Linked DNA regions of Homo sapiens: region 2 is linked to region 1. Evidence: fine-mapped expression QTL. Tissue or cell type: whole blood. Region 1 holds a variant in brackets; the other region holds the start of a gene. All regions are shown on one strand. Distances are from middle to middle.

Evidence for each region. PIP is the estimated chance that this variant, and not a neighbour inherited with it, causes the effect.
Region 2: RTL6 starts here. The variant in region 1 is fine-mapped to the expression of RTL6 in whole blood (INTERVAL, PIP above 0.99).

Annotation. Positions count from the first base shown.
Region 1 is chr22:44,455,023-44,463,125 of GRCh38, reverse strand. No RefSeq gene overlaps it. Among named protein-coding and RNA genes, the nearest start is that of LINC01656, 16 kb to the right of the region's middle. RefSeq lists an enhancer at 7,390-7,539. The variant T/C (reference allele first, on the strand shown) is at 3,107.
Region 2 is chr22:44,494,927-44,503,029 of GRCh38, reverse strand. RTL6 (retrotransposon Gag like 6) reads left to right here and starts at 4,797. Exons shown (of 2, transcript NM_032287.3): 1 at 4,797-4,986; 2 at 5,219-8,103. The coding sequence starts at 5,474. The coding sequence ends at 6,193. RefSeq lists silencers at 4,587-4,646, 4,737-4,866 and enhancers at 6,126-6,903, 6,904-7,681.

The sequences.
Region 1 (8,103 bases):
AAAAATAGACCAGCCATTATGCAGGTAATATGTTAATGTCAGGATTAGCATAATATGGTAATTGGCTCAGAGGCCACCGGGCCCACCTCATCTTTGGAGAGTCAAACCGAAGTATATTTAAAGCAAAGAGTTTGCTCCCTGGCAAGGCTCTCCTTCAAGTAAACCCACAAGGAGGGAGGAAGAGCAGAGGTCCCAGAGATGGCTGAGAGAGAGCATCTCAGAGAGGAAGCCATGCAGGCAGAACAATCCAGCACCAGCTGCCGGTGCCAGAATTGTGCATTCATAAATGCAAATGGATCCGCCCGGGACCTGGAGTGGCGGGCAGGAGATAAATGGAAAATTTTGGAATATAATTAACGTAATGGTAGTCCTCCGGCCCCGCAGAGTTCAATTTGCAGAAGCAATGTTTCAATCCTGGGCTGTTTATCACACCATGGAGGCCGGTTACGCAGAGATAACAGAAAAGCTGTTGTGTGGTCTGAGCGGTGATTTGTCTTGGAGAGGATCCTGATGGTGATGTTTAAGGAAACGTTATTACCAAGACATGTTGGGGAAAATGAGCGGGTCCGGTTGGATGACTGGCCTCCAAGCACTCTTGATAAGACTGACAGTCTTGGTGAGCCTGTGAAATTGCCAGACCCCAGATTTCACCCCAGAAGCAGGAGTTGGTGGGCTGAGAAGCCCAGGCTGGGGATTCTGTGGCCTCCTCTCAGGTGACCCAGCTGCTGTATGCGACCCTGGGGGGGAAAGAACTCTGTGTCTTTGGAGGTAACCGAAGACAGAATAAAGGCTTGGAGGTGGTAGTGGATGCTGCCAGTTGCCTAACTAATAGCTACTCTCCCTGATTTTGGTCAGAGTTGCGATATGCCCATTTAGAGCACTGGTTCTCCCAGCCTCCTTTGCAGTTAGAGGTGGCCTGATGGCACTGTTACGGTAAAAAAGATGTGAGTGACAGTCACTAGGGATGGCTTTTAGAAAAGCTTTGTAAAAGGACCAGAGCCAGCTGCCATTTTCCTTTTTTGGAACTTTGTGTTATAAAAAAATTCCTGCCTGGAATGCAGAGGTAGTGTTTTGGTCTTAGCACCTATTTTGTGACCATGGGGATCAAAGTCACAGGCAGAGGATGATGGAGTGACAGGAGGGAGGGAGCCTTGGCACTGATGACATTGTTGGACTGAACCAGCTGAATGTGATCTCTGGGCTTTTCCATGAGACAAAACTCCTTACTTGCTTAAGCTGCTGGACTCTGTGATGCTAACTGGCCCAGCGTGATCCTGCATGTCTCTGGAGCTCAGGAGAGATGCTGGACGTGCCACTCTGGTAGTTATCCCCACGCAGGTAAGAAATGAAGCCCTGCCAAGCATGAGTCCTCCTGGGGTGAGGAGAAGGGCATCCAGAGAAAGCCCAGGACATCAGCATTAGAGAGAGGCAGGTTGAAGAACCAGAGCCCTCCTAAGAGTGAGGAGGGACAGAAGAATTTGGAGAACAAGGTGTTACAGAAGTCAAGGGTCTCCAGTTTTTTCAGCCACTCCTGGCATACTCTCCCAGATAAATAAAAGGTACTTCACCTGCAATGGCCCCTAAGTGGAATCCATCCTCTACCCTCAGACCTCCTCTTCCGCCTCTACTGTCCATCCAAGTAATGGCTTCGTCACGCACCTACATCCCTTCTCCCTCAAACACCCTCCCTTGTGAAGCTCTTCCCTCTCCCCTCCATTCTATCTCGATCTCTATCTCTAACTCTATCTCTGTCTCTGTCTCTGTGTCATAGTCTAAGCTTCTAGTATGTCCTGCCTAGACCATTTCATTGTGTCCTGCCTGGACCATCATGTCCTGCTTGGACCTTCATTGAATGTCAATACATGTTCCATCCAGCCTTTCTGTGCATGCCGACATGGCTTTCCAAAAATCTTTATGTTACTCCTTTGCTTAAAACCCTTCAGTGCCTTCCCTGCTGCCCCCACCACCCCCAATAATCTGCTTGGCATGGACTGAAGGCTCTTTATTATCTGGCCCCGCCCCATCCCTGTTTAGCTGATACTGTAGGCATTTCAGATGATTCTGTTGCCTAAGTGAGTCGTGTTCTTCTAGCATTCTGAGGCTTTGCTATTTCCTCTTCCTGGAATGCCTTTCCCCTGGCCCTAGTGGTGAGCTCCTGCTTATCCCTAGCGAGCCTTGTCAAGCTCTTCTTCTTTGAAGCCTGGGTTCTGGGGTCAGAATTAATTTCAATTTCACTTTCATTACTATGGCACTTCACTTGAACCCAGTGAATTGAGAAACTCAGCATACTGCACATCCACACCCACATCCCTCACCAGAATGTGGGCTCCTTGATATCAAGAACCATGTCTGAGTTAAAGTACTCAACACAAGGCTTGGCTTGGTGTTTCGTGAGTCATTGTGGGATGGTGGATGGATGGATGGTTGAGTGACTGGATGGATGGATGGATGGGTAGGTGGATGGATTGGTGAATGAATGAGTGGATGGATGAAAGATGAGTGGGTAGATGGATGGATGAGGGGGTGGGTGGATGTTTGAGTATGTGGGTGGGTGGATGAGTAGGTGGATGTATGGATGGGTGGGTGGATGAATGGATGAGTGGGTGGGTGATGAGTGGGTGGGTGAGTGGGTGGATAGACGGGTAGATGTATGAACGAGTGAAAGGGTGGATGAGTGGGTGGATGGGTGGATGAGGGGGTGGGTGGATGGTTGAGTAGGTGGATGTATGGGTGGGTGGGTGAATGGATGAGGGGGTGGGTAGATGGATGGATGAGTGAGTGGATGACTACATGGGTTGATGAGTCCAGTGGATTCATGAATGGACAGGTGGATGGATGGGTGGGTAGGTGGATGGGTGTGAGAATGGAAGGACAGATGGATGGATAGGTAGGTGGATGGAAGGATGGATGAGTGAGTAGCAGGGTAGATGGGTGGGTGGGCGAATGGATGGGTGGACGGCTGGATGGATAGATGGATGAATTACTGGGTGCATTCACTTGTTCTTTCCTCTGCCTTACCTGTCTTCATAGCCCTTAGCACCATCTGCATCATGAACATTTACTTATTTTTTTACATATTATCCACTTTACCAAACTAGAATGTGAA[T/C]TTCATGAAGAGAGAAACTTGTTGAAGACTACTTTCTCAAAGCCGAAAATTGTTTCAGACACATAGCAACTGCTCAATAATAGCCAATTAACAAAGAAATGAGGCAGAGGCCTGGAAGGAGGGTCCAGGTCTTCTTTCACCACGCCCAGGCCACCTTACATGCTCTAATGTGGTGTCTTCTTCCATTGAAATAAAGGGACACAAAAAGGGATGCCTAGACTCAGGGCCAGTCCAGGTCCAAATGGGGAACAAGATTTGCCCTTGAGCGACCGGAATCTTGGGCAAGTGTGTTACATGCTGTATTTCTGACTCAGAGCATGAGGGAGAATAGAGGAACAAGAGGTGGGATGCAGCTTGTATGAAAGGAAACTTCTGAATGGGCACAGGGAAGGCTTCCTAAAGGAGGAGGTACCTGAATTGGGCTTGGAAGGATATTTAGGATGAAGATGGCAGATGCAGGCATGGAGGGACAGAGGTGAGTGGAGTTGGGAAAGAAGGCAGGGGCCAGTTTGGCCTTAGGGAAGGGTGCAGTGGATGGAGGGATGGGCAGGAAACAGTTGGGGAAAGTAGATTGGGAGCAAGCCTACTTGTAATATCTGAGAAATGACCTAGAAGAGGTATCTAGGGGCACTGAAAAAATAGGCCAACACAGGTGGTGCTCTTGGTAGGGCCTTGTATCATAGGGCTTGCAGATCCTAGCAGCAGGTGTGTGCCTGGGGCTGCCCACAGGGTGTAGCTCAGAGGCGGACATGTGACCCAAACTGGCCAATCAGGGTCTTCTCTGAGACACTCTCTCTCTCTCACTTCCTGGAGCAAGACAGTCTCTGAGCCTGTCAAGGGTGAGACGCCGTTGAACCAACTTCCCAGTCAGTGAAGATGAGAAGAAAAGCCAGGAAAGCCCACATGCCACATGGGGCACCTGGAAGACTGGCTTCGTGGGTGCAGAGGTAATGCCAGCTTCTGAGTTGTGGGCAAAAGCCAGAATGAGAGTGAGGTGCCTCTTGGGCTCGTGTGAAGGGAAATTTCTACAAGGTCACTGGGGAAGACTTCATAGAGGAGGTGGTGTCTGAACTGGGCCTGGAAGGATATGTAGGATGAAGATGGGCAGATGCAGGCATGGGGTCCACCAGCCCTCATCCCTTGGGAATAGAGCACCTGGCTGACGGTCCCTGGAGCTCATGCAGAAGCTGGAGCCTTTGGGGGCTTGGTAGGAAGACGTGAGCATGTGGGGCACACTGAACATGGAGAAGAGAAAATGCAGCAGCTTTGCTCAGAGAGGCTCTTTCCACCAGGGCCCGCGGGCCGATCGCCCAGGGCTTGGCAGAGCTGTGGCAGCACTCCTACGCCAGCTCAGGTGCAGGAGCAGGGCTGGGGGTGGAACCAGGAGAGTGAGGTCAAGGCTAGAGGGACGGTGCCTGGCCGTCCTCACACCTCAGCTGCCAGAGGTGGCCTGGGGACCCACTCCAAAGCCCCTGGGTGTAGCCCGCCTGGAGCAGAGCCCTGCAGCTGCCCTGGGCCCACATGGCTGGTTGCTAAGAGACCAGAGCCTGGAGGCCGACAGCCAAATTTCAGGCTGTGACTGAGTAAGGACCCTGGCTTTTGCCTGTGGCTCATGGAGTCTTTAGAAACTGAATTCTCAGACAGCCACCTGAGGTTGAGGGGAGCAGGGCCTAGAGAAATCCCACAGCTGGGAGATAGGGTAGCTCGAGCTCAGCCCTCCCATCCTGCCTTGGAGCCAGTCCAGATGGGCCCAGAGGAGGTGGCACAGGGAGATGCTCCCAGTGGGCACACTAGCTCCCCAGGGCTCCCTGAGCTGCAGGAGGGATGTCTCCGATGTCACCCGGACCGTGCTTATCCTCCTCCCACCATGCTTAACCTCCCTGTGTGCCAACACATGCACACACGTGCATGCACACACCCCACGCAGACACCAGACATACACACAGCACACTCGTCACTCACACGCCACACACCCATGCACACACACACGCCACACCACATACTACACGTGGTTGCAGTCACACCAGATATAGATGCATGTTCCAAGATATCACTTTTTCTCTCCTCCAGGCTTCCTTCTGCCTTTTTCTAGAAAATCTCTAAGGTCCTGCATTAAATGTCAGATCACGGGAAAGGCTGTCCCTGAACTCGTTCAGCCGGGGGACTCTGTGATCCCTTACAGAGCACGGCCTATGGTGCAATTGTTGGTTGAGGGACTGAATGCACCTTACACTGTAAACTCCTTCGGGTCAGGAGCTGAAGCTTCTTTGTGGATTATAGCCAGTACGTAACTCAAGACAGGCTTTCACCAAATGCTTATTAAATTAAGAGGCCAGGCATGGTGGCTCACGCCTGTAATCCTAGCACTTTGAGAGGCTGAGATGGGAGGATCACCTGAGGTCAGGATTTCAAGACCAGCCTGGCCAACATGGTAAAACCCCGTCTCTACTAAAAATACAAAAACTAGCCAGGCGTGGTGGCGGGCGCCTGTAATCCCAGCTACTCAGGAGGCTGAGGCAGGAGAATCACTTGAACGCAGGAGGCAGGGGTTGCAGTGAGCCGAGATTGTGGCACTTCACTCCACCCTGGGCGACAGAGCGAGACTCTGTCTCAAAAAAAAAAAAAAAAAAAAAAAAAAAGGAATGAAGAGTTGAATGAATGAGTGACAAAAAAACAGAACCAAGATTTGTTAAGTGCTGGGCCAGAGCCCTTTCTTCTGTCTCTCTCTTTTGAAAGGGTAAGGATATTTTACTCATTCTGCTTACGTTTAATGCATTTTGTTATTTTAGCTCAAACATAATTGCCTTTTCAGCATTTTTCTTCAAAATGATGATTTAGGGTCATCCAAATCTCAGTGCACATAGTGATAATATTTCTATATGATTTCCATTCAAAGTGAAGAATTTAAAATTTGGGGATGCTTTCAATAAGATCTAGTGAACAAAAGGAGCTTTTGCCCAAGATGATATCTTTTAAAATGTGCTCTATAAAGTTGCTTGGGGTCTAGGAGAACTAGATGATGGGGCTTTTCTAGGAACATCTGCGGACAGGCTTCCAGGCCCTTCCCAGAGTCTCTGCCCATCCAGGCCTTCTCCCCGGGTCCCTGAGGCCTCCACCACCTCCCCTCCAGCTTGCATCCCCCTCTACAACTATCTGAAGGGTCCCGACCAACATCTGCACCTCCCCTACCAGGCTTTACTCCCAGCCTTCTTTTTGAACAGGAAGGCATCTCGAAACTCAGTGTCCCAGGAATAAACTGTTCGTATGTACCCTCTGAGCCTCTGGAAAGAGGCTCATCTGAATCTTCAGGAGCAGGTTGAACAGCATCAGGAAGCAACAGATGTTTCAGCCCTGTCTAGGGCTCCATCATTCTAGGTGCAGAACATCTAGGCCCTCTCCAGCCAGGGTTTTTTCCTGGACTGAGAGCTGATTATTTTATTTTATTTTATTATTTTATTTTTTTGAGGCAGAGTCTCACTCTGTTGCCCAGTCTGGAGTGCAATGGTGCGATCTCGGCTCACTGCAGCCTCTGCCTCCCTGGTTCAAGTGATACTCCTGCCTCAGCCTCCTGAGTAGCTGGGATTACAGGCACCTGCCACCACGCCTGGCTAATTTTTTTGTATTTTTAGTAGAGACGGGGTTTCACCATGTTGGTCAGGCTGGTCTCGAACTCCTGACTTCAGGTGATCTGCCCATCTTGGTCTCCCAAAGTGCTGGGATTACAGGCATGAGCCACTGTGCCTGGACTGCTTATTTCTAAACCTAAATTTAAGCTTTCATTCTCTCCCTCCATTTCACTCTCTGCCCTGAGTGTGGGTCATGGTCGTCTTAAGATTAAAAACCAATGATCGAGTGGATGAGTCAAAAATGCTGGACTGATGTCTTGATTTGACTTCCCACTCTGCCACCAGTGGTAAGTCAGGTTTCTCATCTGAGCCTCTGTTTGCTCACCCTGTAAAGTGGGAAAATCCTATGACCCTATTTTTGTAAAGATAAGTCAAGAAAATGAACTGCTATTAGTGGAGGGCTTCATGACCATGAGAACTACAGAACCTGAAGAAAAGCATCCAAATAGTCCGGGTATTCATGCACGGTAAACCCCTGGAGGCACGTTCCTCTGTGACCGTGCATGCGTGTGCACACATACGAAGGTGACTGGCTCTCCCGCGACTCACAGAGGTGACTCCGGCAGAAACACAACGCCAGCACAGCAGGTCCTGGGGTGTGATGGTACCTCCTCCTGGGTGTCAAGTGGAGACCAGAAGTGCAGAGGACCAACCTCCTAAAGGCAGAAGAAAATGGCAAGTGGCCAATCGTTATATGTTGAGGCTACCATTGCATGTTCTGGGTTTACCACCTCTGTTTACCAGCCCGGTAGCCCTGGGCCTATCACTTAATATTCTTGTGCCACAGTTTCTTATCTTCAAAATCTGGATAATAATGGTAGCCACCTGCTCAGGATGTTTTCAGTTGCAAAGAACAGGAAACCACAAGAACCCAAATGGGCTTTTAAAGTAAATGTCAAGATGACATTCGTTTGCTAAACCGAAAGGCTCAGGTGAAGTGTGACTCAGCCGTTCAATGATGTAACAGAATATCTACTTTTGTTTTTTGCTTTCCCTCTACTTTCCTTTCTATGACATCAGATTCATCCTAAAGCTGGCTCCCTTTAGAGTCCAAAGAGGTCTGCCAGTGGCTCCCAGGCCTGCATGCCTCCTCATTAACATCCTTTGAGAGAGACAGAGTTTCGTTGTCTCATGCAAATATCACTACAGGTCCAAGTCATTCCTCAGAGGCTGGTATTACTCTTATCGGACCAATCTCAGTCCACCCCCAAATTGGAACCAATTACTAGGCCAGGGGATGGAATACACTGACTGGTTCAGATCAGATCACATGCTCCAGCCCTGGGACTGAGAGTAGAGCCAGTTTACTTGGACATCGAAACGGACATAGGGGACGGTGGGAAGGGAGAATAATGCTAGGAGGTGACGATT
Region 2 (8,103 bases), 40 kb before region 1:
ACCTGATCTTGGTACAATATGGCTTTTTCTCCACAATCTGTTCTTTTCACAAATATTATTCCTTCCTTGTTCTCACTGAGCATCCCAAATATACTTACTTTAAAGTCTGTTTTTTTCAGACTCTTCTATTATTTTAATTTCCTCTGGAGTTAATTCACCTTACAGTTATTGATTTTTCTTGACTATTATTCTTAGCATAAGATGTCTTCATGGGCTTCAGAATTTTGAATCTCAGACTCATTTTGTGTTGAAAGACTTTGTCTCTCTTTCTCTCTTGGTACTCCCTTCCCCCATCTAGCAGTTTGGGGTGGGTCCACTTGATGTCTGGTCTGTGGTAAAGAAATATATATATATACACACACATATATGCATATTATATATACACACACATACACATATACATACATATATACATATATGTGTATAATATATATGTGTATATATATTTTGTTGGTGGTTTGGAATCCTGACCCTCTTGGTCTACTTGTTAAACCAGGGGACAAGAGATTAAGATGACTATATCTGTGTTCTCCTTTGACCCAGGGCCACACTTTCACATAAACTGTCACACCCCACCCCCATGAAATGACTGAATCCAATTTTTCAGACTTTTTTTCTGACACAGGGGTGACTCCTCTCTCCTCCATCCCCTGGATTCAAATAGGAAGCCTGGCTGTGTTCCCAGCCTTGGGTCCCTATTATGTCTCAGGTCCAGAGCCCGGCAGGCCCACGTCAATACTCAGAAGTTTGTGTTTCTGGACCATTGTGAAGTTTATCTTGTTTATCGATTGGAGCCCACTTATATCCTTTCAATATTTTCTTTGCATATTTTATTGTTCTGTGTTCACAGCCCAGACAGGCACCTCAGGGCATGAATCATAGCTTCATCTGGATGAGAAGCCAAATATTCTTCTCCTGTTTTTACTTTTAAAAGTCCATTAATTTTTATTTTGCTCTATTTTATGGGCTGCCATCTAATTTCCCCTTGGAAGTAAAGTGAAATACAGATAAATTATTTATTTCTTTAAATGTTTTATCATTTCTGAAATTGGGGTGCATCTTATATTCAATGCACCTGGGAATTTAAGATTCATGGTGTCAACCACACTTAGAATTGCAGCAGACACTTCACTAATGTGCCCAGTATCCAGGGGCCTAGACAGACAGAGAGACAGAGAGACAGATGGAGTGACTCCCACGAGTGGATGGGATTCCTCTGTGTGTTTAGAAGAACCTGGAGGGGTAGAAGGCTGCAGGCTCATTTCTGCTTTTGAAGTCATTGACCTCAGTCAAGGTTAACACAGCTCCTGCCCCCATCTGATTTAGAAGGTCTCATGGAAGAAGTTTAAGGACACACAGTCTTCTTTATTTCCCTCTTGCTTCATGCTCTAGAAGTTTTCACCTGGTCACAAAGGGTGCACACTTTGGCACACTGGGGTACAAGTATCCTTTCCAAGTTCTGACACTGTAGTTGTGGGACCAGCCCAAACTGGGCCTACCCTGTTGGTAACAAAATGTCAAGCTGCCTTTTAGGTAGAACAGAGCCCAAAACTGCAAGTCATGTAGCCTGGGCATGTGCCGTAGAAAAAACTTTGACCTCCAACAACACCCAGAACCAATGATTCGTCCTCTTAGAACCAAGAAGACTGGGACATGACCAGAAGTTGAAAACCAGAACTCATTCACAAGCAAAGGGGTCCATCAGCCTGGAAGGTCTGGGGCTAAAATCTACTTTAATATACATTACCACATATGGTCAAATTTGAAGCCCTCCAATCAGACCCTGGCAAGCCAGCATTGATAAATACTTTCTCTTGCCACCTGATCCCTTAAAACTTGCCCCATACCTCAAATCAGGGAGACGGATTTGAGCCCACCTCCTCTCTCCTTGCTGGTCAGTTTTGCAATAAAGCTTTTCTTTTCTCAAAAGCTGGTGCCATATGTATCGGCTTCCGTGTGCATCAGGCAGCAAGACCACTTGCTCAGTAACAACATCCTTATGCCCTAATTCCCTTGAGTGAAAACTGCAGGTCTGAGTGAATCCAGCTCTGTCCCAGGCCTGCCTAAAGAGTGCAGATGGTTCCCAGCTTCAGCCTCCTTGAATACTGTGTCCTCAAAAGACTGGCATACTGGGTATTGTTAACTGAAGAATGACGAGGTTCATAAACCTGGAAAGGAGAGTTTTATTTATCATAAAAGGTTGCACCCTGCAGAGTGGCCATTTGAATAGGCTGGGAAGTGTAGCCTCTGGCCAGAAGCCATAAACAGGCACTTCAAGGGTTGGAAGAGTAAGACAGGAATTTATGTTGATCAGGGTGGCCAAATATACATATTCAATAAGCTACAGGAGGAGTTATAAATATTTATGAGAAGAGAAATATGCACATGTGCAACTGAGCTTCATCCCCCTTCATGGGTAGCACCTACAAAAAATGGCAGTGTTAGCGTGATCTGAAGGTGGAGTTTTCAGCCCTCTAATGTCAAAAGGTGTATCAGAGGACACAAAAGCTTTCACTGCACATCCTCCACAGGCTGGCCAGAACCACTCCAGGGTTGGTGGTCTCTTACTAGGAAAGAATGCTGGTCAGTTGTTGTGTGCCACAAAAAGGGAGGGGCAGTGTCAGATGGTTGGTTGGTATCAATGTTGAAGTCTTTCAAAGAGGCTTGTTTCTGTTTAACTCTTAAGGAAAAAAGCCTAATGGTGGTTATCGGTTATGGAGCGGGGGCAGATAATGAAGTGTGTCCAACCTCCCATCCCATCATGGCCAGGAACTCGGCTTCCCAGGTTTCTCTGGGGTCCCCTGGCCAAGAGGGGGTCTGTTCAGTTGGTTGGGGGGGGGGGGCTTAAATTTTTATTTTTATTTCTCAGTATCTTTTCTCTCCAGCCATGCCAGCTTGAAACTGACCATGCAGAAGGATCACCTAGGTCAAGCTGGGAATCCAGACCCGGAATCAAACAGTTCTTACCCTTTGGCCAGTGTATTAGTCTGTTTTCACGCTGCTGATAAAGACATACCTGAGACTGGGCAATTTACAAAAGAAAGAGGTTTATTGGACTTACAGTTCTGTGTGGTGGGGAGGCTCACAATGACGGCAGAAGGTGAAAGGCACGGAGGAGCAAGTCAGGTCTTACATGGATGGCGGCAGGCAAAGAGAGAACTTGTGCAGGGAAACTTCCCTTTTTTTTTTTTTTAATTTTTTTTTGAGATGGACTTTTGCTCTGTTGCCCAGGCTGGAGTACAGTGGTGCAATGTCTGCTCACTGCAAGCTCCGCCTCCTGGGTTCACGCCATTCTCCTGGCTCAGCCTCCCAAGTAGCTGGGACTACAGGCGCCCACCACCACGCCTGGCTAATTTTTTGTATTTTTAGTAGAGACGGGGTTTCACCATGTTAGCCAGGATGGTCTCGATCTCCTGACCTCGTGATCCACCCGCCTTGGCCTCCCAAAGTGCTGGGAGTACAGACGTGAGCCATTGTGCCCGGCCGGAAACTTCCCTTTTTAAAACCATCAGATCTCTTGAGACTCACTCACTATCACAAGAAGAGTGCAGAAAAGACCTGCCCACATAATTCGATCACCTTCCACCAGGTTCCTCCCACGATGTGGGAATTGTGGGAGTTACGACTCAAGATGAGATTTGGGTGGAGACACAGCCAAACCATATCAGCCAGGTATCTTCACTCCTTGGTATTTACTCTGGGGAACCCAGCAGAGAAAAGGGTGGGGATTTATATACAAGTGTAGTTTATAAAACTTTAGCATGGTAAACAAGATAAGGATCTATCAAAAAGGGCATGGCTAAATACTTTGCGGTACAGGAGTTCCATGGACCACAGGCAATAACTGAAAATCATGCTTCTGAACTATCTTTAATAGGAAAATGCTCAAAATTCAATGTGCTGTTATGGTTACAAAATATTCATAAGGTAAAAAATATTTTGTAGAACATATCATAGAAAAATGACTGGATGGAAGTACAGAAATATTACTATCTCTACGTTACATATATATGTATTACTATTTGCTATCTTTAGGTGGAGGGAGTCTGAGTAGTATAAAGTTTTTTTTACTTCTCTTACATCAAGATTTGTTACATTAAATTTATATTCAAATCACAATAAGGGCCTGATGCAGTGGCTCACGCCTGTAATCCCAGAACTTTGGGAGGCCAAGGCAGGCGGATGCCCTGAGGTCAGGAGTTGGAGACTGGCCAGGCCAACAAGGTGAAACCCCGTCTCTACTAAAAATACAAAAATTAGCCGGGCATGGTAGCACGCGCCTGTAATCCCAGTTACTTGGGTGGCTGAGGCAGAAGAATCGCTTGAACCCGGGAGGCGGAGGTTGCAGTGACTCAGGATCGCGCCACTGCACTCCAGCCTAGGCGACAGAGCGAGACTCCGTCTCAAAAAAAAAAAAAAATAAGAAGAACAGTAAATCATCAAAAAAATAAACCCAATGACAACCACAGAAAGAGCCTTGCAAGCCCTCTTGGGAGGAATGACTGGGAGAACACCAGGTACCCGCCCTGATGAAGACGCCGCAGCAACTACAGTCTTCCCCGATTGGCAGCAGCCCGAGTTGGGGGGTGGGGGGGGGTGGGACTTTGTGCATCACTTCCGGGGGCGGGGCAGCGGTCGTCTCCGCACGCGCGGGAGCGGTCGGTATCCATGGCAACCAGCGGGGCCAGCCTAAGGCCCGCCCGCCACCGCCACCGCGCCGGCCCCGCCCGCACAAAGGCCGCGCGGTGACCCGCCCTCTGCCGCGACCCCGGCCCCGCCCCTGCCCCGGCCCCGGCCTGGCCCGGTCCCTGCACCTGCCGGAGGCCGCCCGCCGCCATCGCCAGCGCCGTCGCTTGGCTGCGCTGACCGGGAAGCAGTTCTCGGCGGTCCGCGCGGTGATTCATCGGCCTGGCCGCGTCCCCCGCGCGGGCCATCTTGGTCACGGCCGGCGGCGGACAGAGCCGCGGAGGAACCGCGAGACCCCAGGTACGCGTGCCCCCGGCCCCCTGCCCGGCCGGGCCCCGCCACTGTGGTGGCCCCCAGGCCCGCGGCCGCCAAGGAGCAGCCCCCTTTGTTCTCCCCCGGGCGGGCGCGGGGCGGGCGCCGCGGGGCTTTGTGCAGCCTCGCCACCCACGCGCGGGCCCTCCACGCCGCCCCTCACCCTCCTGCCCGCTAGTCGCAACTGAAACCTTGAAAACATCTTTTCTTAATCCTCCAGGGCCCAGAGCAGGTCCAGCCACCCGTCTGGCTCCGTAGTCCGCGAAGTCTGCAGTAAAGGAGCCGCGTGGGACCGGGGCCGAAGTCCCTAGGGCCTGGCACCGCGTGCCCCTCTCTCGGGCCCTCGGCTTGGGGGTCTCGCAGCGCCCTGCCGTCGTGCACCCCACACTGCCCCCATTTCTACAGGGGCCCACCTGGTCACCACACCCTCTTGGTCCACCCGCGGATCTCAGCGTGTGGCTGACCTCTGGCCAGCATGGTGCAGCCGCAGACGTCCAAAGCTGAAAGCCCAGCCTTGGCAGCGTCTCCGAATGCCCAGATGGATGACGTTATTGACACCCTGACCTCCCTGCGCCTCACCAACTCGGCGCTGAGGCGGGAGGCTTCCACCCTGCGGGCGGAGAAGGCCAATCTCACCAACATGCTGGAGAGCGTGATGGCAGAGCTGACCTTGTTACGCACCAGGGCGCGGATCCCGGGGGCTCTGCAGATCACCCCGCCCATCTCCTCAATTACTTCAAACGGGACTCGACCCATGACCACACCTCCAACCTCTCTGCCCGAGCCCTTTTCCGGGGACCCAGGCCGGTTGGCGGGGTTCCTGATGCAGATGGACAGATTCATGATCTTCCAGGCCTCCCGCTTCCCGGGTGAGGCCGAGCGTGTGGCCTTCCTTGTGTCTCGACTGACTGGGGAGGCGGAGAAGTGGGCTATCCCCCACATGCAACCTGACAGCCCCTTGCGCAACAACTATCAGGGGTTCCTGGCAGAGTTGCGGAGAACCTACAAGTCTCCGCTCCGGCATGCGCGGCGCGCCCAAATCAGGAAGACTTCTGCCTCTAATAGGGCTGTGCGAGAGAGGCAGATGCTCTGCCGCCAGCTGGCCTCTGCGGGCACGGGGCCTTGCCCAGTGCATCCAGCTTCCAACGGGACTAGTCCAGCGCCAGCCCTGCCTGCCCGAGCACGGAATCTTTAAGAATCCGCCAGCACTTGGTAGCGTCTGCAGCCACCCAGGTAGCATACGCTCTTTGCTGTGTAGAAGAAATGCCCATACGACAGCTTTGCCCCTGTTTGAAGACCTCCCTTCTTGCCTCTCCAGACGTGTTCCCCGAGGAGATCTTCCTTCCGTCCTTCCTGGCGCCCTGGTTGCCCACCTTGCCGTGCTTCCTCTTACGTGCTAGCTTTGTACCTATCGCTCACTGCATGCTCGCCTCCCTCTTGCTGGCATCCCGGCCTGTTTCAATGACTACCGCTCTGCTACTTAGGCACAGGGACTCCGCCGCACGCTGACGGACCACGAGGGCTGACCCCTTCCAGCCTGACTTGGTTCATGGAGGCTCCTACTCTGCCCTCTCCAAGCTCCCCTGGCGGCTCCCCACCTGGTTGCCCAGTTCCTATTGATGAGCTCTGGACAGAAAGATGCCCGTTTGGCCAGGCTGGTGGCTTGATGGGTGTACCTGGAGAGGGGGTCTGGCTTCCTGCCCAAGATGCCTCCCAGCCCTGCCAGGGCCCGGTGCAGCGGGCAGGGCCTCATCTGTGCTGTAGTGGTCGAGTGGTTGCTGCAAGGAGCGTAGTTCTGCCATGTCTGGGGGCCAGGTTCCACTCTGCACATGAATATGCAGTCTGGGAGGCCCCACTGCTCTCACTGGGAAGGACCAATGTTGCACCTCTGTTAATGCCTGACTTCAGCTGCTGGTGTTCTGATGGAGCCAGAGGCTTGGGGAATCTGGAACTTGCCTGCTAAATAAGGTCGTGGTGGACTCTCAGCCATTGGGCAGGTCTATCAGGCTGCAGGTTCCTACACACCCACGCCTGAGGGTCATAGCAGGCTAAGGGTGGATACCAGCGACTCCCTTTGCTGCCCAGGATCTCCATGGGCAGTGCCACAGCGGCTGATGCTCAGTCACTCCTGCTTCTACCCCCTGTCACTGATGGCGAGCCTTGCCCAGCTTGAGACCTGTTCCCATCTCTATTCAGGTGCCATGTGGCCTTCACTGCAGCCCTGCAGCCACCCACGCACCATCTGTGGGTCTCCAAAGGCACCTTGTAGCATGTACTCCCCGTGCCTGGGCAATCAGATGGGCTGCCTTTGTCCAAGGGAAAACAGACTCCCTTCGGGAAACATCCTTAAGCACTTAAGGCCGGGGGGGGTGTCTGCCTCTGGCAACCCAGCCAGGGTCTTGGTGGCATTTGTAAAAGCAAAGAGCTGTGGACTGCCGTGGTCCTAGTGTGGTGACAATGCAGCACTGGCATGCATGTCCTCCTTCTGAAGGACCTCATCCTTCCTCACAGGGGGATGACCAAGAAATCATTTTGTGGCTGAGTTTGGCCACGCCCTTTGGACTGTGCTGTTCCGCCATATTTCAATGCCAAATGAACCACATTGACATGACCTGGACCATAGGGCTTCCTATCCTGGGCTCAGCTGCCCCTGTCTGAAGGGTCTTGGCTTGATTGCAGAAGGACAACCTCCGCACCCACCTAAAGACATGTATATGTCTTGGGATCCCAGAGATTGGGTCCTTGGGCCTGGCTTCTTAAGAGTTTTGATGATGCTGGGAAAAGTGACTGCGATTCTGAAGAACCGCTGCCTTGCAAGGTCAAGGACATTCAGTGGTTGCTGGGGTCCGCAGACTACTGCCACCCACTCACCATCAACTCTGTTAGCCCAATTGCCCTGCTGAACAACTGCCTGAATACAGGCTTTAGGTTCCCCTGGACTCCAGCCAAGGCTGTTCAGGTGGGACCATGGTGCTCTTTAAGCGTGATCGGAGGGAAGACACACAGCAGGGCCACCATTCCATGAATGGGAGGTGTACAGATCACTTTCTCTTTGTGCTCAGTTCTGTTCTGTCTCCAGCAGCTATATTGGTAAGACTAGTACCT